Homo sapiens: one gene and its partner. The protein of the gene in region 1 interacts with the protein of each later gene in a pairwise test. Each region holds a gene or a part of one and is shown on either strand. Other genes may lie near its edges. The genes, in order: BTAF1 and MVD.

Evidence for each region.
Region 2: the proteins of BTAF1 (region 1) and MVD interact in a two-hybrid assay, tested with the Homo sapiens proteins (one study listed by BioGRID).

The regions. Positions count from the first base shown.
Region 1 is NC_000010.11:91,918,970-91,927,388, reverse strand, and holds the start of BTAF1 (TATA-binding protein-associated factor 172), read right to left. Parts: upstream 3,620-8,419; 5' UTR 3,313-3,619; coding exon 3,299-3,312; intron 1-3,298. UniProt on the Homo sapiens protein: Regulates transcription in association with TATA binding protein (TBP). Removes TBP from the TATA box in an ATP-dependent manner.
Region 2 is NC_000016.10:88,659,507-88,668,053, reverse strand, and holds the start of MVD (diphosphomevalonate decarboxylase), read left to right. Parts: upstream 1-4,962; 5' UTR 4,963-4,973; coding exon 4,974-5,043; intron 5,044-5,272; exon of another isoform or gene 5,273-5,335; coding exon of another isoform or gene 5,336-5,342; intron 5,343-7,416; exon of another isoform or gene 7,417-7,534; intron 7,535-8,547. UniProt on the Homo sapiens protein: Catalyzes the ATP dependent decarboxylation of (R)-5-diphosphomevalonate to form isopentenyl diphosphate (IPP).

The DNA of each region.
Region 1 (8,419 bases):
AGGCAGGTGGATCGCCTGAAGTCAGGAGTTCGAGGCCAGCCTGACCAACATGGAGAAACCCCATCTCTACTAAAAATACAAAATTAGCCGGGTGTGGTGGTGCATGCCTGTAATCCCAGCTACTCGGGAGGCTGAGGCAGGAGAATCGTTTGAACCCGGGAGGTGGAGGTTATGGTGAGTCAAGAACGCACCATTGCACTCCAGCGTGGGCAACAAGAGCAAAACTCTGTCTCAAAAAAAAAAAAAATCAAACAAAAAAACACACTAAGGTCAGAACTAGCCATACCTGAGATGGGGCTAAGAAGTGTTCCAAAGATAAACAGTAGGGGGTAACAAAATGAATTCTGGGGAGGGTGGAGGATAGAAGAGAGAAGAAGGTGAAGGGGAAGTACAGAGAAGTTGACACAAGATGAATCTAAAAAGATGACACAGGAACCAGATCACAAAGGACTTGGTAAGATATGTTTGTTTGAGAATGTGGACTTTATCCTAAGGCAATAGGAAACAACTAAAGGTATTAATTAGAAAGATTACCATGTTCATGTTCAAATCTTCAAATCAGTAAATAATATGACTGAAGCGAAGAACAGATTGAAATGAGATGCCATGGAAGGCAGGAAAAGGAGAGAGGCTCCTGTCTTGTACTAAACATGTCCAAATACCAAATACATTGATACATAAACTTACTATGAGACTTATCAGGTGATACAATGTTCAAGGAGATGAGTACTTCCTTTCCTAGGGTTGAGTGTGTATTTTCAAAAGATTGGATGTAGCTTTACAGTGACAAAAGGGAAGCGTCTCTCTAAAGGTGTCTTGGACTAGAGATGGTGGCATGTTCTAGGATTGTGGTAACTGGTATAGAAAGAAAAATGATCAGCTGGAGAAAGATTAGAAAGGCAGAATATACAGGATTGGATTTGGTAACTGGCTGGACATGGGGTGTGGGAGGAAAAGGGAAGTCAAAGAACATTCTCAAATTTCTTGACCAGACAATTGAGGGAATAATGGTACTAACTTACTATTTCCCATCTGTTGGAAATTCTGGTGGAAATGTCCTAAAAATATTACAGTTTCTCTTCAGTTATGCATATGAAATAAACAGTGCAAAAAATATTTTAGATTTGATTTTAGCATATGATTTTTATCTCCTGGGCTATTTTCCACCTATTTTACGTAAAATAGTATTAAAATGAGTCTGCACCAACAGGAGAGAAAGGAAGTTTAGTTAGCACAGAACTGTGCTTCGTGCATGGAGAAGGCCAGCTTGAAACTAAAATTTGCCATTCAAAGAAATCCACAGGTGAAAAAGTCAAGAATTGACACTATCCCCAAAACACACAAGTGTCTCAAAATGTTTTCCTTGGGCTTACTACTGAGCCCAAGGAAACTAAGCACAGAAATAGCTCTTCCATAAAAACATGACAGGCTTTTAAAAAAGTGAACGAGAAAAAAATCCACAGAAAAAGAGTGCTACTCTTTGAAACACAACATCCAGAACAAAAGACAGTACCTTCAAAACCCACTCAGTCATTGAGAAATATTAACTGTCCTAAAATTCCGTAAAGAGATTAGTGTTGGCTGGGCGCGGTGGCTCACGCCTGTAATCCCAGCACTTTGGGAGGCCAAGGCCGGCGGATCACGAGGTAAGGAGATCGAGACCATCCTGGCTAACACGGTGAAACCCGTCTCTACTAAAAATACAAAAAACTAGCCAGGTGTGGTGGCGGGTGCCTGTGGTCCCAGCTACTTGGGAGGCTGAGGCAGGAGGATGGCCTGAACCCGGGATGCGGAGCTTGCAGTGAGCCGAGATCTCGCCACTGCACTCCAGCCTGGGCTACAGAGCCAGATTCCTTCTCAAAAAAAAAAAAAGAGATTAGCGTTGCCCGAAAATTAGGTTCTTTTTAAACACTTTCATTTTGTCTTTATAAAGCTACATCCAATCCTGTGAAAATGCACAGGTTGCTCTAAGAAAAGAAGTACTCATCTCCTTAAACACTATTACCTGATAAATGTTATATTAAGTTTACATATCAATGCATTTACAATGTATATATTCATGCATTTATATGGGAGGTAACAAATTAGAAGATACACCTTTCTATATTTGCAAAAATGTAAAATGTCACTTGTATTCTCTCAAGGCAGTTTTATTTAAAAAAAAATTTCCTCACATTGAATAGATTATAAAATAAAAATCAGATGCCCCATACTACGGTACCTAGCAACCCCCTTCACCCAACTCCCATGGGCTTCTCCCACACACTATTTCATCAGTCATCTAGGGAGTCTGTAAGGAATGGGTTATCCTTTCCCTTGCAAAACAGATAAAACTTGTGCACTTAATACGCTCAAAGAATGTGTTCAGTTAATTATAAAAAAATGAAAACTATTTGTTTTCATCATTTATTCCTTCAGTCTATATGGTAAAAGAATCCAATTCTCATTAAAAGTTACCATATCAACTCTAAGGAACTTGGTGAATCCATCCGATCACTATCACAGAGGAACTATCCCTTAATTACATGTACAGAGGGTCACCAAATTCCGCTTACAAAAGCTTTCCAACCATTCTATCATACCGGAGGAAAAAGTAATGTTTCTCCTATAGCTATACAAATAAATGTCGTTAGTTTTTCTATAGTTTTCCTGGGCTTTCCTGTTGACAGGCAATATTTCAAAAGAATATAAGATCTGTGATTTATCTTCCACGCCTTAGTTACGGAAAATGATGCTAATACGATAATTGGCTTAAGGTTACAACGCTGACGTTGGAATGTTTACTGCCAAACAAAAGGAGAAATTATACTTAATTTTAAAAAACATCTCAGGAAAGAACATACCCCTAAAAACGTAAATTAAAACTGGTAACATAATTAGACGGTCTCTTAGATAATAGTAATTCAGGTTTCCCCTCCATCGACAGTAACTACCAAGTTTTCCCATGAAATGGAGGTTAGGGACCAGCCTTAGAATACTGAGAAAGATAAGAGACTCCCCTAGAATCGAAAGAGGGAAGAGAAACCAGAGAACAGAAACATGGTGAGGAAAGAGAAAAAACAGCTCTAACGTGCCAAGGGGTCTATTAACAAGAAAAAGGCATTATTGAACCGATTTACCCAGGAGTAACCCGAGCCCAAACCCCCGCCGACCACGGGGCGAACTCCGAAGTCTACTGAAGAAAGCTCCAGAGCCCAGTGACAATGAGAACCGCTCTTCTCTAGGAGTGGGGGCTCTAAGAGGAGACCATGCCTTCCCTGAATCGCCTTCCAGTTTGCTCGTCAGGAGCAAGACCCACCTGGAGACCGCCATGGCCGGGCGCCGGCGGTTCGGAGCTCCCCGCGACCTACGCGCCGCGCAGCTGAGGCGCTAGTTTCCAGAGAGCTGAGCGGCGCAGGCCCAGGCCGCGGAGCACAGGGGAGCGGCCGGTGCGGCGTGGGGCGTTCCAGCGCAGGCCCTCGGGCATCTGCCCTGCCGCCTACCCGAGCTCGTCCCCGCGGCGGCCGGTAAGCAGGGGTCCAAGACGGTAGCGGAGGCGGCAGTCCTCCGACCCGCACGACTTCAAACCGGGTACCCTCAGCTCCGCTCTTTGCTGACGCGGGCGTCGGCACGCACAACTGAGCGTCAGCGCGCCGGAAGTGACGTAAGCTCACCGACAGGAGCTTAGCTCGGCGCGAGCGCCTTTGGTTTGGCGGCACGCGCCTAAATAAAAGCGCTTTGTGCTGATGTGGAGAGGGTGTCTAGTCTTAAAACTAGGGAAGGAGGTGAAGTAAGGGTCCCCTTATTTGACAGAGAAGGAAAAAGGCGATTTAGTCCAAGTCCTGGAACTTCGAAAGCTTGGTTTCTAATTCCACACTACCCAGATTCTGCTTCCCACCGTACTGCATCTAGGAAGCAAGATCAGAAGGACCTTAACATGCTCTTGTCCAGGTGGTGAAGCCAGTGGGAGGAGTGAAAGCAAAAAGTCGCTATGACACTGAAGAAATGGCTCAGATGTTTGTCATTATTTGCCAGAAGTTCTGCCTAGGTATTGGAGAGAAGGTCTTCTGACCAACGATTTTGCCAAGTTTGATTTCTCAATTGTTTATGTTGTTTGTACCATCATTTTCTCAGCCAGCCAGATTTGAAAACTACCATTTTTAAATTTTTGTTCCTTTGGGGGACTTATCTGGCTTTTCAATATTTTTAAGTTCATTAGGCTTTTAAACACTTCTGCCAGGCCCTTATCATCTTACACTTGATTTTTTTTTTTTGACCGAGTTTCGCTCTGTCGCCCAGGCTGGAGTGCAGTGGCGCGATCTCGGCTCACTGCCAACCTGCGCTTACCGGGTTCAAGCGATTCTAAATGTGCCTCAACCTCCCGAGTAGCTGGGAGGCACACGAGCCCCACGCCGGGCCAATTTTTTGTATTTTTTAGTAGAGACGGGGTTTCGCCATGTAGGCCAGGCTTGTCTCCTGCTCCTGGCCTCAAGTGATCTGCCCGCCTCGGCCTCCCAAAGTGCTGGGATTACAGGTGTGAGCCACTGCGCCCGGCCCTTAAACTTGATTTTTATGCTAGTAGTCAAAATAATATTTCTCCAATTTTCAGTTCAGCCCATTTTATAGGCCAACAGATTAATCTTCAAAAAACCTCACTGCTTTTTATCATGTCGCTCCTATGCTTATAAAGCATGTCCATTGGCTTCTCATTACCTGAAGAGGCTATGTCTCAATCCTTGAGTCTGTTTTTCATCTGTAAAATGAGGCTAATGAGAAGTACTGCAGAAGATTGTGGGAATAAAATGAGGTCATGAATCTAGAAGAGCTTACAAGAACTTTGTAAACCATAAAGTAGTATATATGTATGTAAAGAGAAAGAAACTAACAAGTACCTGCTGTGTGCTGGGCACATGACATGCATTATCCATATAATTTGTAGGGAAGCCTTGAAAAGTTAGTTTTAATCTTCGTAGACAAGGAAACTAAGCTCAGAAAGGTTAAGTAATTTGCCTCAAGATTCAAGCTAGTAATAATATTTATTGTCCAGTCATTCAACAAATGTTTGTCACCTCTCTGTATCAGAAACTCTGCTTGGCGGTGTTCATGCTATTAAAATCTAATCAAGTTGATGTTCAAGATATCTTTACATTTTCACTTTAGTCACCTACTTGCCTCATCAGTTTATCTCCCACCATTCAATAACAAGCAGATACTTTTTACTGATCGTGTACAGCAATCATTTAGCCAAAATTAAGCACCTACCATATGAGAGACTGGAACTTCTGAAGAAACCAGAACAGACAAGGTGCCTACTCTGGTTGAATTTACATTAAAAGGAAAGGAAAAAGAAAATAGATAAACATTGAAAATATATTTATGTGCTATGTAAAGAGAATGATGGAATTAATGGTATGATTAAAGACCTACTCTTACTGGGTAAATCAGGGAAAAACAGGATTAGCTTAAGCTGAGCCCTAAATGACAAGAGGTAGCTAAATGTGTGACAATCTGGGAGCCTTCCAGGAAGAGGGTATACGTAGTGCAAAGGCGTAAGAGAAGTCTGCTCTGTTGGGAAATGAGATGGGAGAAGTAGAAAGGGATCATCGTAAGGAATTTGGACTTTGCTCCATATGAAGTAGAAAGTCATAGAGTTTTAAGCAAGTGAGTAAAATGATCTTAGTTATATTTTTTAAATCTTTTTATTATCAGATAATTGGGTATATAGTCTAAATGGCATTAGAAGAGAGGAAAGGACTGGTGGTGTAGATTTGTAAAGGATAGTGTAATAATCAAATATATTGATATTGGACCGGCTTGTTTTTAAATCCTTTCTCACCACACTGAATCGCAGTGTCTCCAGGGGGAATTTTAGAACCTCTCTAAGCTTCATCTGGGAAATGAGGATAATAATAGTACTCATAGGGTTGCGGTGATGATTAAATTAATGCACATAAAACATTTAACCAAGTGACTGCCACGAGAAGCCCTCAAAAATATTATTAACTACATTGCTTACTGTTTTTGTTAACAATGGAAACTTGAGTAAGTGGCAATTTCTAGTCTCAATTTATTCAGCTGTGAAACGGGGATAATAATAGTACCAGTTCACCACCGTTATCTATACCAGTTCATCACCCCTGCCAGATGGTTTTCTGAGTTAAGAATTATTTAGGTTTTGAAAAGAAATCCAATGAATATACCTTGTATTATGCAGCATCCCAACAGCTTGTAGGGCAGTACTCTATAATCAAATATATTTATAGAGCTGCAGCAAAATGTATGACTAACCATACTAAGAGGAATAAGTAAAAGACTATAGATAGGCATATGCCAGTTCAGGCCAGGATTTGCTGCCAAATATATATATTTTGAGATGGCATTTTGCTGTTTCCAAGGCTGGTCTTGAACTCCTGGGCTCAAGCAGTCCTCCCATCTCAGCCTCATGAGTAGCTGGGACTATAGGTGAGTTTTTAAAAGTGTGGTTTTCAGACCATTTTCAATTTCAGAATTGTAAATAATAGATCATGAACCTGTACTTATAGAATTGTCATAAGGAAGAAATGAGTTCATACATGACACACTTAGAAAATACTAAGTATTAGCCAGGTGTGATAGTTCATGCCTGTCATCCCAGCACGTTGAGAGGCTGATGTGGGAGGATCGCTTGAGCCCAGGAATTCGAGACCAACCTGGGCAACATAGGGAGACCTCATGTCTACAAAAAAAATTTTTTTTAATTAGGCTGGGTGCGGTGGCTCATGCCTGTAATCCCAGCACTTTGGGAGGCCAAGGCAGGCAGATCATGAGGTCAGGAGATGGAGACCATCCTGGCTAACACAGTGAAACCCAGTCTCTATGAAAAATACAAAAAATTAACCGGGCATGGTGGCGGGCACCTGTAGTCCCAGCTACGCGGGAGGCTGAGGCAGGAGAATGGCATGAACCTGGGAGGCAGAGCTTGCAGTGAGCCAAGATCACGCCACTGCACTCCAGCCTGGGTGATGGAGCAAGATTCCGTCTCAAAAAAAAAAAAAAAAAAAAAGCCAGCTGTTGGTGGCATGTGCCTATAATCTTGGCTACTCAGGAGGCTAAGGTGGGAGGATCCCTTGAGCCCAGGAACTTGAGGCAACAGTAAGCCATGATCATGCTACTCTACTCTAGCCTGGGTGACAGAAGGAGACCCTGTTTCAATGAAAAGAAAAGACTAAGTATTAAATAAATATTAACTATTATGATTAACTATTTTAGTTATTATTATTTATAATAACTAAATGTACACCATTAAGTGAACAAATATTCACATTATAGGAGTTAAGGAAGGAGAAGTGATAACGAAAAAGCTTATTTAGTGAAATTATTGCTAAAAAAACCTTTCAAGTCTTGGGACAGATATAGAGGGGCAGATTCATAAAACTGAAAGATCCCCCAATAAATACAGCCCAAAGACATCCTCACCAAGGCACATAATAATCAAACTGTCAAAATTTAAAGAAAAATAAAGAATTTTAAAAGCAGCAAGAGAAAAGTGTCAAGTCACATATACGGGAATCTCCATTAGACTACCAATAGATTTCTCAGGAGAAACCTTATAGGCCAGGAAAGAATAAGATTATATATTCAAAGTGCTGAAAGGAATGAAGAAATGAAGAAGAAATAAAGTTTTTCCCAAACAAGCAAAAGCTGAAGAAACTCATCACTACTAGGTCTGCCCTACAAGAAATGCCTAATGGAAGTTTCTTTCTTTCCTTTTTTTTTTCCTTCGAAGTCTTGCTCTTGTCCCCCAGGCTGGAGTGCAATGGCACAATCTTGGCTCACTGCAACCTCCGCCTCCTGGGTTCAAGCAATTCTCCTGCCTCAGCCTCCCGAGTAGCTGGGATTACAGGCAACTGCCACCACACCTGGCTAATTTTTGCATTTTTAGTAGAGACGGGGTTTCACCATGTTGCCCAGGCTGGTCTCAAACTCCTGACTCCAGGTGATCCACCTGCCTCGGCCTCCCAAAGTGCTAGGCTTTCTTGCTTTCTTCCTTTCTTCCTTCCCTTCCTTCCTTCCTTCCTTCCTTCCATCCTTCCTTCCTTCTTTTCTTTCTTTCTTTTTTTGACAGGGTCTTGCTTTGTTGCTGGAATTCAGTGGCACAATCATGATTCACTGCCACTTTGAATTCCTCCCAAGTAGATGGAACTATAGGCATGTACCACTGTGCCCAGCTAATATTTATTTATGTATTTATTTACTATAGAGATGGAGTCTTGCCATCTTGCTTAGGCTGGTCTCAAACTCCTGGACTCCAGTGATCCTCCTGTCTTGGCCTCCCAAAGTGTTGAGATTATAGGTATGAGCCACCATGCACAGCCATGGAGTTCTAGTATAAACAAAATGATGATAATAATTATTATGAATACAAATGAAAATATAAAACTCACTAGTAGAGATAAATATA
Region 2 (8,547 bases), on another chromosome or scaffold:
AAAAAAAAGTATCAAATTGTTAACTCCTCTGGAATAAACATTTCCTTGTCTTTTTTTAATTTAAATTATTATTTTTAAAATGCCCATATTCCCTGAGTCCTCGCTTCTTTTTACCTCTCCAATCGCCTGGCTTCATGGTGTTTCACATTTGCTGACTGCTTCCAGAAAAACATTCCCACTGAAGGCCTCCCAATGCAAGGCAGATATAGAGCAAGCTAGACACATGCCTTCCTTTCCAGTTGCTTTCTGACTTTTTAAAGTCCCAGATGCCTGGGCTTGGGGAAAGGACAGGAAGCGCCAGGACGCAGGAAGCCCCGGGGATCAGCAGTAGGATGCTGTGCAGGCTGTGCTCGGGGCCCCTCTGCTGGCCTGTCCAGGCCAAACCCCCAGGGCTGCAGGCCTGGAACCAGGCAGGACATGCTCAGCCCTGGCTGGGCTTCCCCTCCTTGCCCCAACACCAGTCAGGGCCCACCCACGGGCTCCAGCTGTCTGGCTTCCCATTCATCTCCCAGACCCTCTCCCCTCATGAATCAGTGCCACACACAGCCTACCCATACCATACTCAGCAAAGCACCCATGCCTGTGGCTCAGGTGCGGTGGTGTGATCAGAGCTCACTGAAGCTTTGAACTCCTGGGCTCAAGCGATCATCCTGCTTTAGCCTCTCTAGTAGCTGGGAGTACAGGTGTGCACCACTACGGCCAGCTAATTTTGAAAAAATTTTTTTGTAGGCTGGATGCGGTGGCTCATGTCTGTAATCCCAGCACTTTGGGAGGCCTAGGCGGGTGGATCACGAGGTCAGGAGATCGAGACCATGACCATCCTGGCTAACATGGTGAAACCCCGTCTCTACTAAAAATACAAAAAAATTAGCTGGGTGTGGTGGTACACACCTGGAGTCCCAACTACTTGGGAGGCTGAGGCAGGAGAATCACTTGAGCCTGGGAGGCGGAGGTTGCAGTGAGCCTGGGAGGCGGACGTTGCAGTGAGCCTGGGAGGCGGAGGTTGCAGTGAGCCGAGATTGCACCACTGCACTCCAGCCTGGGCAATGGAACAAGACTGTGTCTTAAAAAAAAAAAAAAAAAAAATTTTTTTTTTGTGGATATGGTGGAGTCTCGCTATGTTGCCCAGACTGGTCTTGAACTCCAGGCCTCAAGCAGTCCTCCCAAATCCCAAAGTGCTGCTGGGCTTACAGGCATGGACCACCATGCTTGGCCTATTTTCGACACACATACAGGCTGAGGTTCAGGAGAGCTGGGCTACAGGCGTCAGGGTGGGGATCGATGTGTGACATCTTTCAGGGAGGTAGTTTATCCTAGTTCTCCACTCAATAAGGGAGTCTGCCCACAAGCACACTGTCGGCACCCATTGCTACATGGCTCAACTGTGAGTATAACTTAGATAATTGTAATAATGAAAATAAGGAATGCTGATGGAGGGATAGGATAAGAAGGTATGTGACTGGGAGATGGAAGAGAATTCCTTATTTCTATTGAGTCATAATCAATAGAGGTTATCTAAAACTTAAAAAAATAGGGCCAGGCACAGTGGCTCACGCCTGCAATCGCAGCACTTTGGGAGGCTGAGGCGGGCGGATCACAAGGTCAGGAGATCGAGACCATCCTGGCTAACACAGTGAAACCCCGTCTCTACTAAAAATAACAAAAAAAAGTAGCCGGTCGTGGTGGTGGGCGCCTGTAGTCCCAGCTACTTGGGAGGCTGAGGCAGGAGAATGGCGTGAACGTGGGAGGCGGAGGTTGCAGTGAGCCGAGATCACGCCACTGCACTCCAGCCTGGGTGACAGACCGAGACTCTGTCTCAAAAAAAAAAAAAAAAATAATAATAATAAAAACGCCAGGCATGGTGGCTCACGCCTGTAATCCCAGTGCTTTGGGAGGCCGAGGCAGGCGTATCACTTGAGGCAAGGAGTCTGAGACCAGCCTGGCCAAACATGGCGAAACCCCGTCTCTACTAAAAATACAAAAATTTGCCGGGCCTGCTGGTGCACGCTTGTAATCCCAGCTACTTGGGAGGCTGAGGCATGAGAATCACTTGAAACCAGGAGGCAGAAGTTGCAGTGAGCTATGATTGCCCCCCTGCACTCCAGCCTGGGTGACACAGCGAGACTCTGTCTAAAAAAAAAAAAAAGAGCAGCCTGGGCAACACAGTAAGACCTCCATCTCTACAAAATAAAAAATAAAAATTAGTCAGGAGTGGTGGCACTTATCACAGCTACTTGGGAGGCTGAAGTGGGAGGATCACCTGAGCCCAGGAGGTTGAGGCTGCTGTGAGCTGATGGTGCCATCGCACTCCAGCCTGGACAACAGAGTGAGACCCTGTCTCTAAACAAAAATAAATTGTTTTTTTTTCTACTGGACTTAAACAATCTGCCCTCCTTGGCCTCCCAAAGCACCAAGCCTGTGTCTTCTTTTTCATCACAGCCGTGGCAGAAGGAAGGAGGTGACTGGAAGCCCCACTCTCTCTGAGTAGCTGAGGGAATACACCCTGACTATAGGCCGAGACAGTCCACATCAGCTCTTCAATAGGATTTAGTGGCTTTGCATAAAATGGAAAAGCAGCTGTGATTGCAAGAGAAATTAAAAATAACCACCATCTGAAATGCAAATTGAAAACAGTGAGACAACACATGTCACTCTGGCAGGTGACCCACTGTGCTGGTGAAGGCATGCAGGCACTCTCAGACTTCCGCAGAGAGACCTGAGTAATCAATTGACTTCCACAAAGGGCGACTTGCCAACAGCTATCAAAAGTACTCAGGCACATCCCACTTGGCCCAGCAATTCCACTTCCAGGAATTTCTCCTGCAGAAATACATGTGCACAAACAACGTAGGAAAGCACTGTTTATAGTAACAACCCAACTAGGACAGACCAGGTATATTTAGACAACAAACAAGGAAGCTTTTTACTAAATTGGGATGATCTCTAAGAAGAAGGTACGTAGAAAAAGCAAGGTGGGAGAACACGCTATGTGCTTGTACTATGCACGTCAATGAAAAAATACACAAAGAATTGACAGGCCAGGTGGAGTGGCTCACACCTAATCCCAGTACTTTGGAAGACTGAGATGGGAGGGTTCCCTGAGGCCAGGACTTCAAATCAGCCTGGGCAACATAGCAAGACCCCCCCACATCTCTACAAAAAAATTAAGAAAAAAATTAGCCGGGCATGGTGGTGTGTACCTGTAGTCCCAACTACTGAGGAAACTGAGGTGGGAAGATCCCTTGAGCCAGGAGGTCGAGGCTGCATGGAGCTTTGATCGTACCACTGCCCTCCAGCCTGAGCAACAGAGTGAGAAAAAAAACAGACTTTTTTTCTATTTCTGGAAAAAAATAAAGAATTTATAAGTATGATGGTTCTGGTAATAGAAGTAGGTGGCTAGGCAGAGTGGACACTTCACACTGCATACTCCCCTATTTTCCGAAATCTGAGTTTTTTTTTTTTTTTTTTTTTTTTTTGAGATGGAGTCTTGCTCTGTCACCCTGGCTGGAGTACAGCAGCACCATCTCGGCTCACTGCAACTTCCGCCTCCTGAGTTCAAGCAATTGTCCTGCCTCAGCCTCCCCAGTAGCTGGGATTACAGGCGTGCACCACACGCCCACCTAATTATTGTATTTTTAGTAGAGACAGGGTTTCACCATGTTGGCCAGGCTGGTCTCAAACTCCTGACCTCGTGATCCGCCCACCTCGGCCTCCCAAAGTGCTGGGATTACAGGTGTGAGCCACCATGCCCAGCCAATCTGAGCTATTTAAAAACTAAAGGTAAAATTTTAAAAGGGGAAGGGGAAAATGGGAAGTCATTGTTTTAAGGGGACAGAGTTTCTGTTTGGGGTGAGAAAACTCTAGAAATAGTGGGGGCGTGGCACATGATTGGAATGAATGGCAGGGAACGGCACGCTTAAATGTTCCTGTACGTTTCACAGGAGAAGTCAATGCACACACAAGCGCCGCAACCCAGTCCAAGGCTTTGCTCCTACAGGGCCTTACAGGGGGTATTTGAGACGCCCACCTTAATGCAGGTTGGACCCAGCTCCGGGCTGCGGGGCTTCCCCGCCCCGGGGTCTTTCGTGTGAGCCCCGTGGCGGGGGATCCTGGCCCAGGACATGGCGCGGAGAAGGCTGTGGGCGGCGGGACAGGGTGCCTTCGGCTGCCGGGTTAAGAGTGGATCCCGGGATACATCCTCCAGCGCCTGCCCTCGGGCCTGTGTGCACCCCCATACCCAGCGGGGCCGTCCAAGAGCTTCAAGGAGGGCACAGCGCGACCCGCCCTCCCCTCAGCCCCGCACACCGTCCCACGGCCCCGCACAGCCTCCCTCCCACACAGCGCCCCACGGCACCCGCACAGCGCCCCACGGCCCCTTCATGGTCCCCGCACAGCGCCTCACAACCCGCACACAGCGCCTCACGGACCCTTTACGGCCCCCGCAGAGTCTCCCACACGGCGCCCCACACAGAGCCTCACGGACCCCGCACAGCGCCTCAAGGTCTCCGCACAGCCCCCAGCACAGCGCCTCACACAGCCCTTCGCACAGCCCCCCGCACAGCTCCTCACGGGCCCCACACAGCTGCCGCACAGCCCCGCACAAGCCCGCACAGCACCAGCAGACAGGTAGCCCCCACAGGCAACAGCGCCCACCTCGCCGCGCCCAGACCCCGGATCGCCGACGCGGACGCCAGGCGCCTGGGCACACGGCGCCTGCGCAGACAACACCACGCCCCAGGCCTGGCGAGCGCACCCTGCGGGTGGGGCGGACCTACGTCAGCAACCCATCGTCCGATCCCGTCCATTGGCTGAGAGGTAATGCGTGCGCCCGACTCGCCGCTGATTGGTCGGCGCGCGAGCAGCCGGGCTCGCACGGGCCAATCCTGTGGTAGCGCGTGAGGAGGCAGAGGCCTCTGGGGTGGGATCGCGGGCCGTAAGTGGCTGTGGAGCTGGGGTCACTGCGCGGTGGGACCATGGCCTCGGAGAAGCCGCTGGCGGCAGTCACTTGTACAGCGCCGGTCAACATCGCGGTCATCAAGTACTGTGAGTGCCGCGGGCCGGCCTGGGACGGGGATGGCCGGGAGCGAGGCCGGGTACGCGGGGGTCGCGCGCTGATTCGGCGGCGCGCTCCGTCCTGCCCTCCCAGGGCCTCGACAGACGGGGAAACTGAGGCTCAGGGAGGGGCGCGGCGGTGGTCGGGCGGGGCCGCGCGCTCCTTCGCGTGACAAGCTCGGCGCCACCCGTTCCCCCGCGACGGCTGCCGCCCCTGCAGGGTCGCCCGGCGCCTGCCCATTAGCGATTACCGAACTATCGAAATCATCAATCATCGATTCCCATGAATCGTAAGAATCCGCCGTGGTGGTGCGCGTTTGTGGCTCCAGCTACTCGGGAGGCTGAGGCGGGAGGATGGCCAGAGCCCGGGAGGTCGAGGCTGCAGTGAGCGGAAATCGCGCCACTGCTCCCCCAGCCCGAGACCCTGTGTCCCTCCCTCGCCCCGTTTCTCCCAGCGGTAACCTCCAAGGAGCGGTAATGGGGGGCCCGCAGGCCCACATCCGTGCCGGGGAGGCCGGTCCGCACCTGTGCGTTCACAGCCCCGCCCCTCCCCTCGCGCCGGGGTTACCTGGCCGCCACTGACCACTCATTTCTGTAACGTCATTTCAAAATGTTCTGAAACTGGAATCGCAGTTATGTGGCCCACCCAGTATCTTTTGAGTTTGGCTTATTTCATTCAGCATAGAATGTGGACGTGCCCCGGGATTGTATCAGTGCTTTGCCCCTCTGTTGCTGAGCCAGTCCGTGGAATCCATGGACCACCCTCTCTCTAGCCAAGGCCTCACCCCGCAAAGAGCATCTAACGTTTTCTTTCTTTCTTTCTTTTCTTTCCAGAAGCCGCCACCACGACTGGCTAATTTTTTTGTGTTTCCCTTACCAATAAAGCTGCCATAAAATGTTGTATACAGGTTTTTGTGTGAACATACATTTCCATTCTTCTGGGATAAATGCCCAGGAGTGCGGTTGCTGGGTCAGATGGTAGATATATATATATGCCTCTCTGTCTCTCTCTCTCTTTCTATGTATATATGTATGTTTGTGTGTGTGTATATATATATACACCTGTATAGATATATGTGTGTGTATATGTATACACCTATATAGATGTATGTGTGTGTATATATACATATATATATTATATATATACTTTTTTTTTTTAAAGAAACTGTCTAATTGTTTTTCAGAGTGGCTGGGCCATTTTGCATCCCTACGGTGATGCAGATTTTCCGCATCCTCACCAGCATTTGGTGGAGTTGCTGTTTTTCATTTTAGCCGCGTCCTGGTAGGGATGTGCTGGCAGGGTGCTGTGGTCCTCATTCGCGTTTCCCTGTTGGCCAGTGACGTGGAGCATCTTTCTTTGTGCTTATTTGCCATCTGTGGGTTTTCTTGGTGAAATCTCTCTTCATATTCTGTGTCCACGCTCGAACTGGATGGTTTGCTTTTTTACTATAAGTTTGGAGAGTTCATTACACATTCTAGGCTGGGCACGCTGGCTCAAGCCTGTAATCCCAGCACTTGGGGAGGCTGAGGTGGGCGGATCACCTGAGGTCAGGAGTTTGAGACCAGCTTGGCCAACATGGTGAAACCCCCGTCTCTACTGAAAAAAAATAAAATATGTATTCTAGATATTAGTCTCCTGTTGGACATGTGGTTTGCAGGTATTGTCTCCCAAACTAGCTAATCTTTTTGTCCTCTTAACAAAGAGCCAGTTTTTCATTTTAAAGAAGTTCAGTGTATCAATGTTGATGTCAAGTCTAAGACCTCTTTGCTTAGCCCTATGTCCTGAAGATTGTCTGCTTTCCTCCAAGTTGTACAGGATTGCCTTTTATATTTAAGTCTGTGATCCAAGGTTGTCCAGTTAGCCCAGAAAGGCTATCCTTCCTCTATTGAATTGCTTTTGCACTTTTGTAAAAAAAAAAATCAGCTGGGCATGTTTGTGTGGGTCTATTTCTGGATTTTCTCTTCTGCTATTTTTTTTTTTTTTTTTTTTTTTTTTGAGACAGAGTCTTGCTCTGTCACCCAGGCTGGAGTGCAGTGGCACAATCTTGGCTCACTGTAACCTCCGCCTCCTGGGTTCAAGCAATTCTCCTGCCTTAGTCTTCTGAGTATTTGGGACTACATGCACGTGCCACCACACTTGGCTAATTTTTGTATTTTTAGTAGAGATGGGGTTTCACCGTGTTAGCCAGGCTGGTCTGAAGCTCCTGACCTCGTGATCTGCCCACCTCAGCCTCCCAAAGTGCTGGGATTACAGGTGTGAGCCACCGCGTCTGGCCTTTTATTTTTATTTTTTATATTTATTTATTTTATATTTATATTTTTATATTTATTTGTATTACTTTTATATTTATTTTTTTGAGACAGACTGTCACTGCGACACCCAGGCTGGAGTGCAATGGCGTGATCTCGGCTCACTGCAACCTCCGCTTCCCGGGTTCAACCGATTCTCCTGCCTCAGCCTCTCGAGTAGCTGGGACTACAGGTGTGCGCCACCACACCTGGCTAATTTTTGTACTTTTAGTGGAGACGGGGTTTTGCCATATTGGCCAGGCTGGTCTTAAACTCCTGACCTCAAGTGATCTGCCTGCTTCGGCCTCCCAAAGTGCTGGGATCGTAGGTGTGAGCCACTGAGGCTCACCAACAGTGATATTTATGGAAACGTGTCCATTTTCTTGTAACGTTCAGAGACTCTGGTCTTCTTTAAACCTTACGTTTGAGCTGGTTTTTGATAGCGCGCTGGTGGAGGAGGGGGTGCTGGCTCAAGATAAGGAGGCAGAAGTCCAGGTTCCCCTCCCCACCAACGCTGTCCCATCCCCACCAGGCCCTCAGGAATTCCTGAGTGTCTGCTTGGCCTCTGACAAGAGCCGGCAGGTCAGGGGAGTCCAGTCTCCCGTGTGCTCTCCAATGACTCCTGGGGAGGTGAAAGTCCCCACTCCTTCAGGGAGGGAAAGGGGGCGGGGCACTGTTCCAGCCTGGAGTGTGGGAGGGATCTGTTTCTTTTTTTCTTTTCTTTTTTTTTTTTTTTGAGAAAGGGTCTCCCTCTGTTGCCAGGCTGGAGTAAGGCTGGAGTGCAGTGGTGCCATCTCGGCTCAGTGCAACCTCCGCCTCCCAGGTTCAAGCGATTTTCCCGCCTCAGCCTCCTGAGTAGCTGGGATAACAGGCGTGCGTCACTACAGCCTGGCTAATTTTTGTATTTTTAGTAGAGATGGGGTTTCACCATATTGGTCAGGTTGGTCTCAAACTCCCGACCTCAGGTGATCTGCCCACCTCGACCTCCCAAAGTGCTGGGATTACAGGCGTGAGCCACCGCGCCCGGCCAGGAGTCTGTTTCTGTGTTGCTAGGCTGCCCTTCCTGGTCCTGCTAGGGAGGGCTGGCTTTGGTTGGCAGTTCCAGCTTCTGCAGGGCTAGGTCTAGGGCAAGCAGAAAAGAAAGCCCCGGGCTCCCCCTGCACTGTCCCACAGCCGCCCTCTGTCACCCGTGAGAGTCTCACCTGT